Linked DNA regions of Homo sapiens. The protein of the gene in region 1 purifies or fractionates together with the protein of each later gene. This does not show direct contact. Each region holds a gene or a part of one and is shown on either strand. Other genes may lie near its edges.

The links. Proteins that work in one complex are often made in the same cells at the same time.
Region 2: the proteins of PGM2 (region 1) and C11orf54 fractionate together in Homo sapiens (co-fractionation; one large-scale study listed by BioGRID). This does not show direct contact.

Annotation. Positions count from the first base shown.
Region 1 is NC_000004.12:37,843,686-37,847,185, forward strand, and holds part of PGM2 (phosphopentomutase), read left to right. Parts: intron 1-678; coding exon 679-868; intron 869-1,947; coding exon 1,948-2,045; intron 2,046-3,245; coding exon 3,246-3,426; intron 3,427-3,500. UniProt on the Homo sapiens protein: Catalyzes the conversion of the nucleoside breakdown products ribose-1-phosphate and deoxyribose-1-phosphate to the corresponding 5-phosphopentoses.
Region 2 is NC_000011.10:93,751,672-93,755,171, forward strand, and holds part of C11orf54 (ester hydrolase C11orf54), read left to right. Parts: intron 1-2,010; coding exon 2,011-2,084; exon of another isoform or gene 2,085-2,088; intron 2,089-2,264; coding exon 2,265-2,366; intron 2,367-3,500. UniProt on the Homo sapiens protein: Exhibits ester hydrolase activity on the substrate p-nitrophenyl acetate, in vitro. Regulates DNA damage and repair by regulating HIF1A degradation via chaperone-mediated autophagy (CMA).

The DNA of each region.
Region 1 (3,500 bases):
TGCAACCTCCACCTCCCAGGTTCAAGCGATTCTCTTGCCTCAGCCTCCCAAGTATCTGGGATTACAGGCATGCACCACCATGCCCAGCTAATTTTGTATTTTTAGTAGAGATGGGGTTTCTCTGTGTTGGTCAGGCTGGTTTTGAACTCCTGACCTCACACGATCCACCTGCCTCGGCCTCCCAAAGTAAAAGTTTTATTTTTTATATCTTTATGTATGGGATAACCCAACACATTTTGTTAAAAAGGACATTTTGAAAATCATTTCTGAAGCTGATAAAAGACATTTGGGAACCTGTCGCTTTGGGGATGTGTGGGTGTGTGGAGCCCTGGAACTGTCCCGGGCTGGCTGTAGCACTGTCAGGGCACCTGTCAGGCCAGCAGTGAGTCTCGTGTGGGAACATGAGCTTGAGGTTCTTCTTTGTATCTCACTCTAGATGGGATGCATAAAACAAAACCTGAAATAATCAGATTTGCTGAAAATAACTACAGAGTAGAATTTAAAACTTGAGTATGTTGAGGGAAGGAATATATATATCTGGGAGAGAATGGATACGTTTTGTTTTTCTGAAATGGAATTAGAAAGATGTTCAGTTGTCTTGTGCATTCTTGCAAACCTTGCAGTTTTGAGAGCCCTGTTTCTGCCTTGTATCATTTTCCACTGTGTATCTGATTCTAGGAGCGTGAACAGGGAGACAAAGGTGAAGTTTGTGCACACCTCTGTCCATGGGGTGGGTCATAGCTTTGTGCAGTCAGCTTTCAAGGCTTTTGACCTTGTTCCTCCTGAGGCTGTTCCTGAACAGAAAGATCCGGATCCTGAGTTTCCAACAGTGAAATACCCGAATCCCGAAGAGGGGAAAGGTGTCTTGGTAACCTAATTTTTTTTTAAATTATGAAATCTGCTTTTATATTCAAAACTATTACTGTCAAGTAAAATACATTTTTATGTGTTTTCATTGTGCTGAAGAAAAACTAATTTCAGCATGGAAATATGTATGTTTGGCTGGGTGCAGCGTCTCATGTCTGTAATCCCAGCACTTTGGGAGACCAAGGCAGGCAGATCACTTGAGGTCAGGTGTTCGAGAACAGCCTGGCCAACATGGCAAAACCCTGTCTCTACTAAAAATACAAAAATTAGCTGGGTGTGGTGGTACATGCCTGTAATCCCAGCCACTTGGGAGGCTGAGGCGCTAGAATTGTTTGAACCTGAGAGATGGAGGTTGCAGTGAGCTGAGATTGCACCACTGCACTCCAGCCTGGGTGACAGGGTGACAGAGCGAGACTTTGTCTCAAAAAAAAAAAAAAAAAAAACAAGAAGTATGTATATTTGTTAGTCATTAATTTCTTAAAGGATCTTTCAAATTAAACACCCCAGGATCAGGATATGAGAACTGAGCTCTAAATGGTGCTTCAAATTCAGTTAATTTAATTTAATTTAATTTGCCGTGTCTCCTTAATGCCAAAAAGAAGCAGTAATAGAGTGAAACTTTAGCAGGTTATGATTTTTATTTCTTGTCATTTTTCTGATATGAAGTGTTGCTTACATTATGGTTTCTGTAACATTTTTAAAGGTTGGGGTAGCAGTGGCATTCAGAGAATCAGTTTATTTTGTTTTATTTGTGAGGCTGATCACACAGCAATGCCCCGAAATACCAGTCCAACCACAGACCTACTGGCGCATGTGCAGCAGGCACACTGGTAGGCTTGGGTCACACACCGATGCTCCCATTATCTGACCTCTGACTTAGGAAGATACTATGTGACCAACCAAGACCAGCTGCAGCTTTTGTTTGCTAAATTTCACTTCTGGAGCTGTCTTGGTTGGTCCTATATTATCTTTCTAAGAGGGGAAAGACCTCTTGAGTTCTTAAGGAACTGAATGTTTTTAAAGACTATCATATGCTCGATTCTTGATTAAATAATCTTTTATTTTCATATTCTTCTTCAGACTTTGTCTTTTGCTTTGGCTGACAAAACCAAGGCCAGAATTGTTTTAGCTAACGACCCGGATGCTGATAGACTTGCTGTGGCAGAAAAGCAAGACAGGTAAAATTAATTGTGATTACCTATATTATAGAACATATAAAGGATGATCTCTTCATTGGTAAAATGTTTCTGGGGAGACGGGACCTATTTGGAAACATTTCCCATTTATTTTGCAAATGATCATTTCACTGAACCTCCTGTAGAGTCTTCTAATGGAGAGCAAGATAGAGATCTAGTGTGGGGGGAGGTTACGTGATTGGCAAGCATAATGCAGAGTAAATCAACCCAGTATATATTTCAAATTGAAACTCCTATTTGGGAACTTCTCATTTTGTAATTGATCTTTTTATAAGTAATGTCTCAGTGTCTAATGAGGGTAAAGCACTTTGGTGCTAGCTGTATGCTTCAGTATTTGCTGAGGGGTTTAGGAGGGAGCAGTACCTTCAAGGAGATGCTGAATTTAGTTTGGACAGACCAGGGAGGAATTCCTGTGGGGTATCGGCACAGTGTTTAAGACAAGTCTGACCAGAGAGTTTGTACAAAGGAGAAGTAAGTACGTGGGGCTAAAGTTGAAAGGTAGGCAGGGCCCAAGCAATTTTGGGCGTCAGGTAGCCTATGTGATGTTTTGGGGGCAGGAGGGTGCTGCTGCTGAAATGGTAGGGTTTTCAGATTGTGATAAAACAGGTTCCATTCTATATCAGTGTTGAGAAAGTTAAGCTAAGATGATACGTCCTGATAGGTGAGATTTACTTCTAGCCATCTGGACTGCCAAGAGAAGCAGAAATTACACATCTTTTCTCTGATGTTCTGACCATTTAGGACTGAGCTTGATCTTAAGGGGTACTGAGCTGTCCCCTCTCAGAATCAGCAATACTGACCAGTCCAGAAATTGAGATAGCAAAACTTACTCTATATATGGGGGATCTTGCCAGCATATTTGTTATATTTAAAACCAAAGGCTTTGCCAAAGATTAATATAGAGCCATTGTGTGTCATGTGTGACATACTTATTTTATACAGTCTTCAAAGACAGGATGTCTGTTCAGGCAAACTGGCTGATATATATGGTAGCTGCTCAGATGTTTGTAAAATGGCAGTTACATTTCTGACCAGTTATTTAAAGATGATGAATAACAAGAACAGCCTTGCAGAAAATACTTAGATGCTTTGTTTGCTAAATTGTTTTATCCCCATGACACTTTAGAGTCTTCCTTAAGATTATGGAAATGAATGGTGGTTGTTGTTTTTTTTTTCTTTCAGTGGTGAATGGAGGGTGTTTTCAGGCAATGAGTTGGGGGCCCTCCTGGGCTGGTGGCTTTTTACATCTTGGAAAGAGAAGAACCAGGATCGCAGTGCTCTCAAAGACACGTACATGTTGTCCAGCACCGTCTCCTCCAAAATCTTGCGGGCCATTGCCTTAAAGGAAGGTTTTCATTTTGAGGTAGGGTGTTTCTGGGACTCACTCATTTTCCTTTCATCTGCTCTGTAGAAGATCTAAGGCATGTCTTTCTCTTT
Region 2 (3,500 bases), on another chromosome or scaffold:
GAGATTACAGGCGTGAGCCACCACGCCCAGCCTTGATTTTTTTAAAAATATGAGTGTAATGTATTTCCCCTGCTAATTAAGTAATTAACTAAAATTAAATAAAGGTCAGGAGACAGAAGAGTACAAGAAAGAAGGAAAAATGGTTAATCTTTTTTTTTTTTTTTTTTTTTTTGTGTGTGTGTGTGTGAGATGGAATCTCGCTCTGTCGCCCAGACTGGAGTGTGGAGTACAGTGGCACAATCTTGGCTCACTGCAATCTCTGCCTCCCGGGTTCAGGCGATTCTCATACCTCACCCTCCCAAGTAGCTAGGATTACAGGTGTGCACCACGACACCTGGCTAATTTTTGTATTTTTAGTAGAGACGGGGTTTCATCATGTTGGCCAGGCTGATCTCGAACTCCCAGTCTCAAGTGATGTGCCCGCCTCGGCCTCCCAAAGTGCTGGGATTACAGGTGTGAGCCATCATGCCCAGCCAAAATGGTTAGTCTTAATTTTGTCATGCAGAGTTATGCTTGGAAGAAGTGTTTTCTGGTCAGTAATTTGTGAGTCTTTAAATTGCAATACTAGAAGCCAGATATGCATCTAATATGTGTATGTATGATCTTTCATAAACATAGGAGTTTAAGACCAAACTGGCCAACATGGTGAAACCCAATCTCTACTAAAAGTACAAAAATTAGCTGGATGCAGTGGTGTGTTAGACATTTTCTACATGAACTGGTCTTGCTAAGATCACCAGTGACCTTAAAATGTTTACTAGTACTATTTAACCTCTCCACGTATTTCATACTGCTTGGCCATTGCTGCCTGACATTCTCCCCTAGGTTCTATCTTCTCTATCCTTGTTTCACCTGTTCTTCCTTTGTGCCTTTCCTTCCTCTTTTCTTCCATATTTTCCTGGTTCCTTTTTCTTTCTAATAGTCTCTTAAATATTGATCTTTTCCAGAATTCTTTCCTTAGCCTCTTCTTATTTCTAGTAATCTATCTGGGTATTTTTTAAATCCACTCTTATGGTTTTAATTACTACCTGAATATAACTTTGAAATTTGTACATCTCACCTAGATCTCTCTGGGTTTTTTTTTTTTTTTTTTTTGAGACGGAGTCTCGCTCTGTCACCCAGGCTGGAGTGCAGTGGCGCGATCTCGGCTCACTGCCAGCTCTGCCTCCCAGGTTCACACCATTCTCCTGCCTCAGCCTCCTGAGTAGTACACCCAGCCTCCTGAGTAGTACGCCCGGCTAATTTTTTGTATTTTTGGTAAAGATGGGGTTTCACCGTGTTAGCCAGGATGGTCGCGATCTCCTGACCTCGTGATGTTTTGTTTTTTGAGACAGAGTCTTGCTCTGTTGCCCAGGCTGGAATACAGTAGCACAATCTTGGCTCACTGCAACCTCTGCCCCCGCCGGGTTCAAGCAATCCTCCTGCCCCAGCCTCCTTGGTAGCTGGGATTATAGGCTCCCGCCACCATGCCCAGCTAATTTTTCTATTTTTAGTAGAGATTCACCATGTTGGCCAGGCTGGTCTCGAACTCCTGACTTCAGGTGATCCACCCGCCTCAGCCTCCCAAAGTGCTGGGATTGCAGGCGTGAGCCACCATCTGAGAATTTACATTGTACCAGAGCAAAATATTTTAAATTAAAAAACAAGAAACAATTTTAGCCAAAAAAAGGAAAACCACCCCAAAATAGATTTTTTTTAAAGAAATAAGGCGTCAAAGACATTCTAGAAACCTTACCCAATCCAAACTTTGGCCCCAGTTCTAACCCTTGCCCTTGCCTTGTATTGCCTTTATGCCACCAACTTTATAAGCCATGCTTGGTTATGATGATTATTAGAGACACAGGTACTTAAAATAGGACAGGGGTTCTAGCCACTATGTCTTCCAATCCCTGTTATTTGTAAAACTTTATGATAATGGAGAAGTTATATACTGTTGGCATTTTATTATTAAATTAGATGTTTGCCTGTTTTTAAGGTGGCTTGTGTTTTTGTTTTTTGGTTTTTTCTTAGGCATCTGTGGGAAAACTAGAATTGCAGAAGTTGGAGGTGTGCCTTACTTATTGCCTCTTGTAAACCAAAAAAAAGTAAGTACTTTTACTCTGCATATTCACATGAAGATTGTAGAAGTTGGGTTGATTACTGTGTTTATTATTAGAAGACCTGTTGATCAGTTGGCAAGGAAGTGCTAATGGATCAGTAATAAAAGGTAAACCAGGGACTTTGTACAAGTTGTGACTTAAATAATATTTTTTCCTCTTCTATAGGTTTATGATCTGAATAAAATTGCAAAAGAAATCAAGCTGCCTGGAGCCTTTATTCTTGGAGCAGGAGCAGGTCCATTTCAGACTCTCGGGTTCAATTCTGAGGTCAGCATATATAAGAAAATTATTTTACTTTATTGGTTTGACATTTGGTTTGTCTTTTTGCTTTTAGTGCCAAAAATCCTACTTTCTGAGTGAATTGTAAATCTCTCTGCAGGTTTGATACTACTTGATGTAGATTTCTGCTATAGCACACACTCCAACTGGACTAACTGTAATGGAGTACTAACTTGTAGTTTTAGATTTTCTTAGGTCATAGCTTCAGCCTTAGATAAATGCAGGGTTCTATGGTATTCTGTTGAAGGTTCTGGATTATAAAATATTTATATTCTTACAGGATTCCGAGCTTATCTATAAATCTTTGCTTTGGGTATGCAGGCAGCTTTGGATTAGAAGATGAATGGAATATTAGTGATCTAGTCAACTCCTTCTTCCACACCAAATAGTAGGAAACTATCACAATAGTATGATGGTTATTTATGAAAGTTAATAGTTATTACTAGTATATATTATTACCATATGAAAATATTACTGTTTCTTTGAATCTCATGAATACAAGACTTCAGTCTGCTCATTCTCTCATAACCTCTTCAGATATGAATAGTAGTCATACAAGTTCTTTGCAGAAACATTAGTACAATTTGCCTAGTGTTCAAGTTAGGAAAAAAAGTTAAAAATTTAAAATAAGATATTTAACGCAAGTTATAGATACACTGTAAGAAATCCAATAAATATCTTTTTTTTTTTTTTTTTTTTTTTTGAGATGGAGTCTCGCTCTGTCGCCATGCTGGAGTGCAGTGGCGCGATCTTGGCTCACTGCAACCTCCACCTCCCAGGTTCAAGCAATTCTCTTGCCTCAGCCTCTTGAGTAGCTGGGACTACAGGTGTGTGCCACCACGCCCAGCTAATTTTTGTATTTTTAGTAGAGACAGGTTTTCACCATGTTGGCCAGGATGGTCTTGATCTCTTCTCTTGACCTCGTGATCCGCCCCCCTTGGCCTCCCAAAGTGCTGGGATTACAGGCATGAGCCACAGCGCCCGGCCTATAAATGTTTTCCAAGTTTTTTATGTCTAAAATTAAATATTATGTATTTTATGTTCTCTTATTAGGACTTGAACTAAAATGTCTTAAAAGGATTAAATGTTTTGTAACATTATTCAAGATATTCTCTTTGCAGA